2 separate regions of the Homo sapiens genome follow, and region 2 is linked to region 1. The links come from fine-mapping of genetic effects on gene expression. Tissue or cell type: whole blood. Region 1 holds a variant in brackets; the other region holds the start of a gene. All regions are shown on one strand. Distances are between the middles of the regions.

Region 1 (8,223 bases):
GTAGACATGGCCTGGGAGGCCCACAGAGGATGGCGAGAAGTGATCCTAGGGTGGCGGCTCTGCACCAGACGTGGAGGGCAACTGAGCCATACTGCAGCAGTGCAACCCACCGAGAGGTGAAGGCAGGCCATGGTGAGCTTAGAAACAGGAAGTACAGGGCAGCCCCCTTGCTCTGACTGTATTTCCACTGCAGGTCCAGCGCCTGGTCCCCACCTTGGCCCTGCCTGGTGCCTGACTATGCTGAGCCCTGTGTTTCCCAAAACTCCAAGATCTTGCTCACGACTTCCTCAGGAGGGGCTTTGTCAGCTCCCGGAGAAGCAGAAGTCAGATCACAACCTGGAGATTGATGCGCTCACCTCCTGGAGCCTCCATCCAGCAGGGGCAGTGCTGCCCTCTCCTTGCACTGCCAGTGTGCACCTGCTCTCCGCTTTAATATTAATCATCTTTGATATTCATTTACATGTAGTTATAATAGCTGCCCAAATAGTGAAATAGTAAATAAAATTACCAAATGATCTTCTGTGGATGTGGCCATGTGCTCTTATCTCCTGCGGATTCTTGCTTAGACTTCACATGCTTACTCTGTGAGCCCTTTCCTGAGCACCTTATTTGGAATCATAAGTCCCACCAACTCTCTCTTTGAGTGATTTGTTTTCTCGGGAGTACGTCTCAGCTAGAATATAGGCTCTAGGAGAGCCTGTGGTTTTGTTTGCTTGTTTCTCTGCTGTATCCCTAGGGCCCAGAGAGTGGCTGGCTCAGTCAGCTCTCAATAGATTTTTTTGTTTTTGTTTTAAGACAGGGTCTCTTGACTCCCAGGCAGGAGTACAGTGGCCCGATCTAGGCTCACTGCAACTTCTGCTTCCCGGGCTCAAGCTATTCTCCTGCTTCAGTGTCCTTAGTAGCTGGGATTACAGGTATGAGCCACCATGTCCGGCTAATTATTGTATTTTTTGTAGAGGTGGGGTCTTGCCGTGTTCCCCAGGCTGGTCTCGAACTCCTGAGTGCAAAGCAATCCGCTTGCCTGGGACTCCCAAAGTGCTGGGATTACAGGCCTGACGGCTCTCAGTAGATTCTTATTGGATAAATTGAATGAGATGATGAGGAAGAGTTTGCTAGAAAGAGAAAGGTGGGCAAGGATGACGATTCCCAGCAAGGAGGCAGCTGGCACAGAGCCACAGTGCCTGCTGTATGGAGCCCTTTGTGCAGTAAGGAGCTGCTGCTGGGCCCAGGCGGCAGGTCCCGGGGGCTTCCCTTATCTTCAGTGCTGTCCTGAAAACTTAGTTGTTCAAGGCTACTTTTTTTTAAATCAGAATCTCGCTCTGTCACCAGGCTGGAGTGCAGTGGCACGATCTTGGCTCACTGCAACCTCTGCCTCCTGGGTTCAAGCGATTCTCCTGTCTCAGCCTCCCGAGTAGCTGGGACTACAGGCGCACACCACGATGCGTAGCTAATTTTTTATTTTTAGTAGAGACAGGGTTTCACCATATTGGTCAGGCTGGTCTCAAACTCCTGACCTCAGGTGATCCACCCGCCTCGGCCTCCTAAAGTGCTGGGATTACAGGCGTGAGCCACCGTGCCCAGCTGGCTACTTTCTATAGTTATACTGTCCATGAGGGTAGCCATCAGCCAGGTCAGGTTCTTAAGCACGTGGAATGCACCTTGTTAAACTTGACTTGTGCTAAAAGTGTAAAATGCACACTGGATTTTGATAATTTAGTACCACAGATTTTTTTGGTGCACTCACTTCAGTGGCTGTCACCTGTAATCCCAACACTTTGGGAGGCCAAGGCGGGCGGATCATGAGGTCAAGTTCGAGACCACCCTGGCCAGCATGGCGAAAGCCCGTCTCTACTAAAAATACAAAAATTAGCCGGGCATGGTGGCGCACACCTGTAATCCCAGCTACTCGGGAGGCTGAGGCAGGAGAATCACTTGAACCCGGGAGGCAGCGGGTGCAGTGAGCCAAGATCATGCCACTGCACTCCAGCCTGGGTGACAGAGCGAGACTCCATCTCAAAAAAAGAAAAAAATACCGATTATGGCCAGGCACAGTAGCTCATGCCTGTAATCCCAGCACTTGGGGAGGCTGAACTGGGCAGATCACTTGAGCCCAGGAGTTCAAGACCAGCCTGGGCAGCATGGCAAAACCCCATCTTTACAAAAAATTAGCCAGGCTTGGTGGTGTACACCTGTAGTTCCAGCTACTAGGGAGGCTGAGGTGAGAGGATCATCTGAGCCTGGGAGGTCAGGGCTGCAGTGAGCTGTGATTGCACCACTGCACTCCATCGTGGGCAATAGAGTGAGACCTTGTCTCAAAGAAAAAAAAATACTGATTACATGTTAAAAAGATAATATAGGCCCAGTGTGGTGGCTCACACCTGTAATCCCAGCACTTTGGGAGGCCGAGGTGGGTGGATCACGAGGTGAAGAGATCAAGACCATCCTGGCCAACATAGCGAAACCCCCTCTCTACTAAAAATACAGAAATTAGCTGGGTGTGGTGGCGCACGCCTGTAGTCCCAGCCACTCAAGAGGCTGAGGCAGGAGAATCGCTTGAACGCGGGAGGTGGAGGTTGCAGTGAGCCGAGATCGCACCACTGCACTCCAGCCTGGCAACAGAGCTAGACTCTGTCTCCAAAAAAAAAAAAAAAAAAAAAAAAAATATATATATATATATGGTTAAATAACATTATTAAAGATATTAAGATTTTTTCTCAAAAAATACTGATTATATGTTAAAAAGTTCATATATATTGGGTTAAATATGATATTAAAATTGGCACCATCTGTTTCTTTTTATGTGCTACTAGCAAATTTTGCCCACACTTGTGGCTGGCATATTTCTATTAGTGCTGTTGAGTAATGAGTACGTTTGTACTGTGTTGAGTTTAACACTTTATTAGATACTCTTTTTTTTTTTTTTTTTTTTTTTTTTGAGATGGAATCTCGCTCTGTCGCCCAGGCTGGAGTGCAGTGGCGTGATCTCAGCTCACTACAAGCTCCGCCTCCCGGGTTCACGCCATTCTCCTGCCTCAGCCTCTGGATATTACTCTTTATGTCCTCTTTCATCTGTGGAACTCATTTATTTTATTTTATTTTTTTGAGAAGGAGTCTCACTCAGCTGCCCAGGCTGGAGTGCAGTGGTGCAATCTCGGCTCACCGCAACCACCATCTTCCAGATTCAAGTGATTCTCCAGTCTCAGCCTCCTGAGTAGCTGGGATTACAGGCACCCGCCATCATGCCCAGCTAATTTTTGTATTTTAGTAGAGACAGGGTTTCACCATGTTGGCCAGGCTGGTCTTGAACTCCTGACCTCAGGTGATCCGCCCGTCTTGGCCTCCCAAAGTGCTGGGATTACAGGCGTGAACCACAGCACCTGGCCCATCTGTGGAACTCTTATCTCACTGTCACTTCACAATCATTGGAACAGGAAAGACTGTATTTATAATTACTGATTTCAGTTTGCTCACCTAAATCCTAGATGCTATTTTTTAGTGTGTGTGTGTGTGTGTGTGTGTGTGTGTGTGTGTGTGCGCGCGCGCGCGCGCGTGCTGGGGTGAAGGAGTCCTGAATTCACATTGTCTGTCTTTGGCCTCTGGCAATCTGCCTTCTGATTTCACTACTCAATTAAACCAGTCTATCTTGACATCTTTAATGCGTTTTTACTTTTATTACCCTCCGTGCTACGTTTGATAATATTTCAAATTTTTCTCCTTAAGATAGAATTGCTGCACTTAACTCCCAGATCCATTTGGACAAGTAGATTCAATTGTTTTATTTGTAAAGGGAATAAGGGTGTCCAGCTTGGTCAAAGGAGTTTGAGGAGTACATGCATGTTCTGGACTTACACACCGAGTGATTGATGCCTCGAAGAAAGCGAATGGCAAAGGATTAAGACAGTAGTGGATGAGATGAATCGGGGGGGAGAAGTGTTTCTGTTTGGGTTGTTTTATTATTATTATTATTTTTTTTTTTTTTTTTTTTTTTGAGGCAGAGTTTCGCCCTTGTTGCCCAGGCTGCAGTGCA[A/G]TGGTGTGCGATACTGGCTCACTGCAACCTCCGCCTCCCGGGCCCGGGTTCAAGTGATTCTCCTGCTTCAGTCTCCCAAGTAGCTAGCTGGGACTACAGGTGTACACCATGGTGCCTGGCTAATTTTTTATTTTTAGTAGAGATGGCGTTTCACCATGTTGGTCAAGCTGGTCTCGAACTCCCGACCTCAAGTGATCCACCCACCTCGGCCTCCCAAAGTGCTGGGATTACAGGCGTGGGCCACCTTGCCTGGCCTTGTTTGGATTGTTTTAGAATGTAAAATTGGGCTGGGCACAATGGCTCACGCCTGTAATCTCAGCACTTTGGGAGGTCAAGGTGGGTGGATCCCTTGAGCCCAGGGGTTTGAGAGCAGTCTGGGTAATATGGTGAAACCCCATCTCTAAAAAAATGCAAAAATTAGCTGGGTGTGGTGGCTCCATCTGTAGTCTCAGATACTCAAGAGGCTACAATGGGAGGATCACTTGAGCCTGGGAGGTGGAGACTGCACTTAGCTGAGATTGCGCCACTGCACTCCAACCTGGGTAACAGAGCGAGACGCTGTCTCAAGAAGAAGAAATAAATGAATATGAAATTGAAGGCAGGCATGGTGGTTCACGCCTGCAGTCCTAGCCTTTTGGTAGGCCAAGTCAGGAGGGCTGCTTGAGGCCAGGAGTTCCAGATCAGCTTGGGAAACATAATGAGACCCCATTTATTTGAATAGTAAAAAATTAGCTGAGTATGGTGGCGCATGCCTGTAGTGCTAGCTACTGGGGAGACTGAAGTGGGAAGATAGAGCTCGGGAGGTGGAGGCTGCAGTAAGCTAGGATCACCCCACTGCACTCCAGCCTGAGTGATAGAGCAAGACCCTGTCTCAAAAAGAAAAAAAAAATGTGAAATTGAGCATATATTTGAAAGAAGCCACTACCACAGTGGTTCTCAAACTTGGCCTTTGTCAAAATCACCTGAAGGGCTGACTAAAACCACTTTCTGTGCCCCACGCTTAGAGTTTCTGACTCAGTGAGTATGGGGTAGTGCCTGGGAATTTGCATTTCCAATAGATTCCCAGGTGATGCTGATGCTACTGGCCTGGGATCACACTTAGAGAACCACTGCTCTAGAACAAAACAAATTCAAGTTATTTTTGAGATGAAGAGGGGACGAATTTGAAGGACAGAAAGTCTCAGATGAGGCAGGTCCAGAGGGAATAAGAAGGTGCAGCTGAAGGGAGTTAATCTTTGCAAGGAGAAGTGCTTCCCTCTTACAGAAGAGAGAAAGAAAAGAGTTGATAAGACGCTAAAAGGTTTTGAGGTGAAAGAGAGGCATATTTAAGGGAGTCACCTAAGTTGGACTTTGAGACACAGCTTTAAATCAAATAGATCTGTGTCCAAATCCTGGTTCAGCAGTCACACTCACATTCCAAGTTGTATAACTTCTCCAAGCCTTAGTGCCTTTATCTTGAAATTCAGGATAACCGAACAGCACTTAGCCTGTAGGTTGTTGTGAAGATTGAGTGATGAGCTAGTACTGCTTCCTGTTAGTGAGCAGAGAGAGCGAGCCTGGGAAACAAAAAGACAAAGAACAGAGTGACCTTGACTGTAGCAGTGGGGGAGGTGGGAAAGTTAACTGTGAACTTTCACTGGATACCTGTAATTTGCTGAGCATTAGACTTGGCCCTGGGGATGAAAAGGGCAAGGCTTTGGTCTTCAGGGATGGAAGGAGATGCAGAGAAAGTGAACATGTACAGTACGACACAAATGCTTTACCACAAACATGAAACGTAGTATTGTATACAAAGTACTGTTAGAGCATTAGGGATAGAATAAGGAATTTGACCAGCAGTAGGATAAGTGGTTGGAGAGAAAACACTGCAGAGTTGATGTTTGAGCTAAATGAAGCTTGTCCAGCCTGCGGCCGAGATGGCTTTGAATGCAGCCCAACACAAATTCATAAACTTTCTTAAAACACTATGAGATTTATGCATGGACCTTTTTTTTTTTTTAAGCTCATCAGCTACTATTATTGTTAGCTTATTTTATTTGTGGCCCAAGACAGTTTTTTTTTTTTTTAAGACAGAGTCTCATTCTGTCACCCATGCTTGAATGCAATGGCGTGATCTCAGCTCACTGCAACCTCTACCTCCCAGGTTGAAGCAGTTTTCCTCCTTCAGCCTCCCGAGTAGCTGAGATTACAGGAGCCCACCACCACGCCCAGCTAATTTTTTGTATTTTTAGTAGAGAGAGGGTTTCACCATGTTGGCCAGGCTGGTCTCGAACTCCTGACCTCGTGATCCACCTGCCTCAGCTTCCCAAAGTGCTGGGATTACAGGTGTGAGCCACCATGCCTGGCAGTTTTTCTTCTTTCAGTGTGGCCCAGGGAAGCCAAAAGATTGGACACCCCGAGCTAAATCTTAAAACATTAGTAGGAGGTGGCCGGTCGCGGTGGCTCATGCCTGTAATCCCAGCACTTTTGGAGGCCGAGGCAGGTGGATCACGAGGTCAGGAGATGGAGACCATCCTGGCTAACACGGTGAAACCCCATCTCTACTAAAAATACAAAAAATTGGCCGGGTGTGGTGGCGGGCGCCTGTGGTCCCAGCTGCTCGGGAGGCTGAGGCGGGGGAGTGGCGTCAACCTGGGAGGCCGAGCTTGCAGTTAGCTGAGATCATGCCACTGCACTCCAGCCTGGGCCTGGGCGACAGACAGAGCGGGACTCTGTCTCAAAAAAAAAAAAAAAAATTAGGCGGTCACCAGCCTGGAAGTATATTCTCAGTCCTGAAAGACATTCAGTTTAAGTTGGGGCCCCAAGGGAATGGCAGGGAATTCAACAGAGAAGTTAATTGGGAATCAGATCAAACAGGCCTTTATGTGCCAGGTTAAGGAGTTTGAACTTTATCTGTAAGTAATGGGGAAATAAGACACTTAAAATGGTGCAGATATGTGTTTTATAGCGGTCACACGGATAACATCATAAAGGGTGTGTTAGATCCGAGAGAGAATAGAAACAGAAGTCAGCATGAAGTTATTTCTGTCATCTAGGATAAAAAATGACTTGAACTAACATGGGCGTAGTATGGAGGTATCTCACTGGAGAGAGATTTAGAAGGGCGAATCAGAACTCAATGCCTGGTCATCGGAGAGGACAAGGATTGACCCATGCACTGAGACAGGGTGCATGAGAGCAAGGTGTGGATTTGGGGAGGAAGGCAAAGAACCCAGCTCGGACTGGGTTTACAGTAAACCCAGCTGGGATTACAGGCGTGCGCCACCACGCCTGGCTAATTTTTGTATTTTTAGTAGAGACAGGGTTTTTACCATATTGGTCTTGAACTCCTGAGCTCAAGGAACCACCCACCCGCAGCCTCCCAAAGTGCTGGGATTACAGGCTGAGCCACTGTGCCCGGCTGTGAGTTTGGAATAATGACTTGCACTCTATTTACTGTTAATTTATATACAGCCTGTACAGAGCAGTGTCTGCTGTATAGGAGGACTTTGGTGAATGAGTACTCTATGAGCCCCTGAGAGCGTCTCCTTGTTCAGAGTAAAAGTTGGTATTAGAATTATAGCAATGTGGGTCAAGTGAGGTTGCTCACACCTGTAATCCCAGCACTTTGGGAGGCCAAGGCGGGCAGACTGCTTGAGGTCAGGAGTTCAAGACCAGCCTGACCAACATGGTGAAACCCCGTCTCTACTAAAAATACAAAAATTAGCCAGGCATGGTGGCGGGTGCCTGTCATCCCAGCTACTCGGGAGGCTGAGGCAGGAGAATCACTCGAACCTGGGAGGCGGAGGTTGCAGTGAGCCGGCATGGTGCCACTGGACTCCAGCCTGGGTGACAGAGTGAGACTCCTCTCAAAAAAAAAAAGAAGTATAGCAATGTGGAGTTTTAAAGCCAATGGAACTCTAGATCATCTAACCCAGCCATCTTCAGGTTCTAAATGGGTTATGTCTTAACGTCACACATCCAGTTAGCAATCGCCTGCATTGTTCTCATGTCTACCAAGCAACCTTCTGAGCCTCACTGGTTTCCCAAATTGGTTTTTCTCTAGTGAAGAGAATATACTGACTGCCTGCCAAGCACAAGAATCAATCTATTTAACAATTTTGTTTCTCAGTGAATTCTAACTTTGCTTATCCTGCAGGAAGAGATTGTATTGTTAAATACTTACATAGCTTTGCTTTAAAAAAATCTCTTTAAAA
Region 2 (5,884 bases), 53 kb before region 1:
TTTTGGCACTTACCTTTGCAGGAGTAGCTCTTTTGCTCACAAATGTACTTCCTGTAACTACATTTTAAGCTCATTATTTGGATCATGTAGCATCCAGAATTTTATTCTGCTTTGAATAGCTGCTTCCCCAGGTAGACAGGAAACCAAAATTCTCCTACACAAATTTTGGGGCTGAAGTTGGGGCGCCGTGGCTCACGCCTGTAATCCCAGCACTGTGGGAGGCAGAGGCAGGTCGATCACCTGAGGTCAGCCTGGCCAACATGGTGAAACCTGTCTCTACTAAAATACAAAAATTAGCCGGGCGTGGTGGCGGGCGCCTGTAATCCCAGCTACTCGGGAGGCTGAGGGAGAATCGCTTGAACCCGGGAGGCGGAGGTTGTAGTGAGCTAAGATCGCACCACTAGACTCCAGCCTGAGCGACAGAGCAAGACTTCGTCTCAAAAAAATAAAAATAAAAAAAATTTGGGGGTTGAGGGTTGGATGATACTAACTCATGCAAACACCAAACCCTGCCTTTCTTCCCCTTCCCGGTGGCAAGAGGGCTTTTCAGATCAGTGATACATTCGCTGATTCTAGTGTTTTCCACCCTAGTAGTCAAGCCTTTGGGTGTCCAAACAAATAGAGAACAAGAGATCAGGATCTCTAAAGGTCTAGAAAAACCCTGGGCCACTTCCATTTTGTGAGGTTCTCAGCATACTGAAAACTGAAGATGTACTAAGAGTGGGTTACTAAAATGGTGGCGTATCTTAAATCTTTCCATGGCACCATCCTTTCTCTCGTCCTGTCATCCCTGTATCTCTCTGCCCTGACACCTAATCTCACTTCAGGAAACATAAATTGAAAGTTCAAATAACCTCGGATTATATTATTCTGGACTGTGTGTTATGCTGGGCGACGAGGCTGCGCAGGCTCCTGGGCCGAGCCATGACTCTGCAGGAACTGCGGCGCCGGCTCACACAGCGCGGAGCAGTGCACGCCAATCCGGCCAGGCGCTCGCGCTGGGTTCTGCTCACGCCCGTAGGGGCCCGCGTTCGCTGCAACGGGCCCTTCCTGATGGCCGATCGTCGGACTCCTACCCCTTTTGCCGGCTGCCGTTTGCCCCGTCAGCGAAGGGCGCGCGATGCGTCCCAAGTCTCGGCTCCAGGAACCAGACGGGTGAGGGCTACTGGGGGTTGGGTTGGAACGCCCCGAAGGCACCACAGCAACCGACGCGGGAACGCCTGTTAAACCAGCCCCGCCCCGAGACGCGCGCGCCCGGCGGTCTCGATCCAGCGTGGCCCGCCCCTCACCTCCCGCCCAACCAACAGCCACTTCCTGCCTCACTCCCGGCCAATCTTCACACTCCACGAAGAATAGCCGTAGGGGGCGTATGGGACGGTGCGTAGAGCGATGCCCACGCCGGCCAACCGGATGTCGGGGCTTGCGCGGGAGGGCGGGACTTGGCGCCGGCTGTGGCTACTCAGGGGCCAGGGGCGGGCACAGGGCCGGGCTTCGTGCGGTGGGGCTCGCTCGCGCGGCAGCGGTGGCCGAGGCCTCTTGGTTCTGCGGCACGTGACGGTCGGGCCGCCTCCGCCTCTCTCTTTACTGCGGCGCGGGGCAAGGTGTGCGGGCGGGAAGGGGCACGGGCACCCCCGCGGTCCCCGGGAGGCTAGAGGTGAGAGGGGAGACCTGAGCGCGTCCTCGGGCCTGTGAGGACCTCGGGGGGCTGGGAGCGCCTCTGCGGCTGAGGGGTCGGGCGTGGCCGGCGACTGAGGGGTCGGGCTGGCTCTTGAGGGCCCAGGCCCTGGCCGACGCGCCCGCCGTGAGCGAGGAGGCCCGAATCCGGGCGTCTTTGGTTGGGTTGCGGGCCCAGGCCGCGCCGCCGGGGTCGGGAGGCGTGGCAGGTGGCCCGACAGCCTTCTTTGACCTCTGGGAAAGCTGACTTATTCCTATGGCTTTGCTTCTAGGGCTTTCTTAGGCCTCTTTGCCGGCTGCCTGGGCAGCCGCGAGGTGGGCTGGAGTAACTGGGTAAAAGTATAGGGTGGAATCGGGCCTACTAGGTACCCCTAGTAGTAGGGAAGGGTGGTATTAGACCGAGAGGGAATGTTTACAACTAGCGTTACAGTTTAATATTTGAAAATCCAAAGCGGAGACTGGACCCTAGTTCCCTGAAGAGAAAGGGGAATGTACCAGAAGGAGAACACGCAGTGGTTGAGAAACTTAGCAGTTACAGCACCTATTCTGGAGGCGAGTAATCCAGTTGGAGAGGGACAGGGCGTTAAAAGCAGGAAAGCCCCCGAAAGCTCATCTAAGTGCATCTCTTTCCACACCGGAGGCCTGGAGGTATGAAATGACTGGCCCAAGGTCATGCGATTAGTGTACTGATGGTGCTGGGATTATAGTTCAGGGATAGACCGTGCAGTGGTTAACGCTAAGGCCCTGGCTCGAGTCTTTGATTGGTCATTGGTTGCTCTGTGAACTTCGGCAGTTTTCTTACCCTTTGTGCCCCCGTTCTTGTCAAGTAATGGATATAATAATACCCGATGGATTTGTGAGGATTAAATTAAGATATGTATACAATAAGACAGGGAAGTCCGACATTTAGTAACTGCTCGATGATCATTGCGGTACGTTATTATAATCTGAATGCCTTTGGACCAATACACTGCCATCCTAGTGAACTGGTTCAGTCCTGTTTCGCAGGACCTGAGGTCACAGTTATGGTGATAGAAGAAACCGGGCATTGTGTATTACCGCTGGGCATGACACAAGTGATTGCTGGTTGAGGGAAGTTAAACTGAGCTTAATATTAAAAGATTGAGAGGACAAGATTAACCATAGTTAAGTCTTTTTACCTCTGATTTAGGAAATGGAAGATTTTGCTTAATTTTTTAATAAGTAGATTTTTTTAAGGGGGAAGAATTTTATTGATCTTTAAAATCATTCTGTATCTCAGTCTTTTCCCAACATTGTTTGAGGGTCATGAATAGAAGCAACTGCCATATGGATCAACTGTTGTACATTTGGTATAATTATACTTAGAGCAGAGGTAAAGGACTATGTGGGAGTTCTCCTGTGCATCAGCCAGGGTGCACACACAAGCCAGGTAACTGGATCATGAGAATGCTCGAGTGAACTGTGTGTGGGGGTCAGTGTTGCACAACAGAAATTTTCTGACTTATCTGCAAATGGCTGTCAGCATTCCCCGACACCTTACTATCCTTACTCCCCAGTTCATTTAGCGCATTATCTTCTCAGGGCCACAAGGGATAAGTGTTTTGACAGAAGTCGTTGCTGCCGTTTTGGCAATCACACTATTGCATCCTTTTAGTTAGAGTTCTCTTTGCCCTGGAAGACAGCTTAAGGGGATGAAGTGGCAGTTGGTGAGCATGAATTGCAGGCTCATGAAACTTGAATTGTGTGCCCAGTGTGGTAACCTTTTTTTTTTTTTTTTAGACGGAGTCTCGCTCTGTCACTCAGGCTGGAGTGCAGTGGCGCGATCTCGGCTCACTGCAAGCTCCGCCTCCCGGGTTCACGCCATTCTCCTGCCTCAGCCTCCCTTGTAGCTGGGACTACAGGTGCCCGCCACCACGCCCGGCTAATTTTGTTTTTGTATTTTTAGTAGAGACGGGGTTTCACCGTGTTAGCCAGGATGGTCTCAATCTCCTGACCTCGTGATCCGCCCACCTCGGCCTCCCAAAATGCTGGGATTACAGGCGTGAGCCACTGCGCCCGGCCCAGTGTGGTAGCTTTTGTCCCACTTTGGTTTCCGTAACTTCAAAATAGGAATGAGAAGTCTCCTGGGTTCCTCACCTTTAGGGGGCAATTGGGAGGGGCAGATAAAATGGTGAACATGAAACTACTTTAAAAAGTGTAATGAATTGGCTGGGCACGGTGGCTCTCACGCCTGTAGTTCGAGCACTTTGGGAGGCTGAGGTGGGCGGATTACTTGAGGCCAGGAGTTGGTAACCAGCCTCGCCAAAATGGTGAAACCCTGTCTCTACTAAAAATACAGAAAATTAACCTCCAGCTACTCGGGAGGCTGAGGCAGGAGAATCACTAAACCTGGAAGGCGGAGGTTGCAGTGAGCGGAGATGGTTCCATTGCACTCCAGCCTGGGTGACAGAGTGAGACTCCATCTCAGGAAAAACAAAAAAAAAAGTGTAATGAACTGTGCAAATAGAATACGCCGTTTATAATAACTCCTAGGAAATAATAAAAGTACCTAAACAGTTAAAACCTATACAGCTTTTGGTAAAACTTTTCAGGAAAGTCCTGGTTGAATTCTTTGTTACTCCAACAGATGTACTTTTTTTTTTTTTTTTTTTTTTTTTTTGAGACGGAGTCTCCCTCTCAGGCTGGAGTACAGTGGTGTGATCTTGGCTCACTGCAACCTCCGCCTCCTGGGTTCAAGCAATTCTCCTGCCTCAGCCTCCCAAGTAGCTGGGACTACAGGTGCCCACCACCACACCCGGCCCGGTTTTTTGTATTTTAGTAGAGACGGGGTTTCACCGGGTTGTCCAGGCTGGTTGCGAACTCCTGAGCTCAGGCAGTCCGCCCACCTCGGCCTCCCAAAGTGCTGGGATTACAGGTGTGAGCCACCGCGCTCAGCCTTACTTATTTTTTTAGAGACAGGGTCTTGCTCTTCATCAGGCTGGAGTGCAGTGGCGTGGTTATTGCTCACTGCAGTCTCAAACTCCTGCTGTTATTGGTTCAAGTGATCTTCCTGCCTCAGTCTCCTGAGTAGCTGGATCCACAGGCGGATGACGCTACACTCAGCTAATTTTTTTTTTTTTCCTAATTTTTCATAGATACTTCGCTTTGTTGCCCAGGCTGGTCTCGAACTCCTGAGCTCAAGCGATCATCCTGCTTCCTCCAACTCCCAGAGTTCTGGGATTACACGCGCGAGCCACGATGCCAACCAGGAGACCAGAAATTAAGCTCAGCTTTCTTTCTCTCCCTTCTTCCCTCCCTCCCTCCCTCCTTTCCTTCCTTCCTTCTTTTTTAAAACTTTGTGGTATCTGTTTGTGAATTGCTTATTTTACTTACCATATTGTCTTCAAAGTTCATCCATGTTATAGCCGGTGATGGGATTTCCTTCCTTTTTGAGATTGAATAGTATTCCATTGTATGCCTATGCCACATATGGTTTAATCATTCATCCATTGATGGACACTTGGGTTGCTTCTGACTGTTGGCTGTTGTGAGTAGTACTGCTATGAACACGGGTCTGCAAATATCTCTGAAACTCTGCCTTCTTTTTCTGTTTGTTTGTTTGTTTGTTTAAGGCAGTCTTACTCTGTTGCCCAGGCTTGAATGCAGTGGTGCCATTACAGCTCACTTTATTTTTTATTTTTTTGAGACAGTCTCACTCTTGTTGGCCAGGCTGCAGTGCAGTGGCGTGATTTCAACTCACACTGCAAACTCCACTTCCCGGGTTCAAGCTATTCTCCTGCCTCAGCCTCCTGAGTAACTGGGATTACAGGCATCTGCCACCACACCCAGCTAATTTTGTGTTTTTAGTAGAGACAGGGTTTCTCCGTGGTGGTCAGGCTGGTCTTGAACTCCCGAACTCAGGTGATCCACCTGCCTCGGCCTCCCAAAGTGCTGTGATTACAGGTGTGAGCCACCACGCCCAGCCTGCCCAGCTAATTTTTGTATTTTTAGTAGAGACAGGGTTTTGCCATGTTGGCCAGGCTGGTCTCGAATTCCTGACCTCAGATGATCTGCCTGCCTTGGACTCCCAATGTGCTGGGATTATTGGCGTGAGCCACCGCGCCTGGTGGAGTGGTGGAGTCTTTTTTTTTTTTTTGAGGTGGAGTCTCTGTGGCCCAGGCTGGAGTGCAGTGGCGCCATCTCGGGTCACTGCATCCTCCGCCTCCCAGGTTCAAGCGATTCTCCTCCC

Evidence for each region. PIP is the estimated chance that this variant, and not a neighbour inherited with it, causes the effect.
Region 2: it holds the start of CANX, and the variant in region 1 is fine-mapped to the expression of CANX in whole blood (INTERVAL, PIP 0.97).

The regions. Positions count from the first base shown.
Region 1 is chr5:179,749,690-179,757,912 of GRCh38, forward strand. The region is part of intron 1 of MAML1 (mastermind like transcriptional coactivator 1); the gene reads left to right. Among named protein-coding and RNA genes, the nearest start is that of MAML1, 21 kb to the left of the region's middle. RefSeq lists an enhancer at 59-559. The variant A/G (reference allele first, on the strand shown) is at 4,028.
Region 2 is chr5:179,697,449-179,703,332 of GRCh38, forward strand. CANX (calnexin) reads left to right here and starts at 1,519. Exons shown (of 15, transcript NM_001746.4): 1 at 1,519-1,654. RefSeq lists enhancers at 624-1,153, 2,714-2,773 and silencers at 1,164-1,573, 1,614-1,903.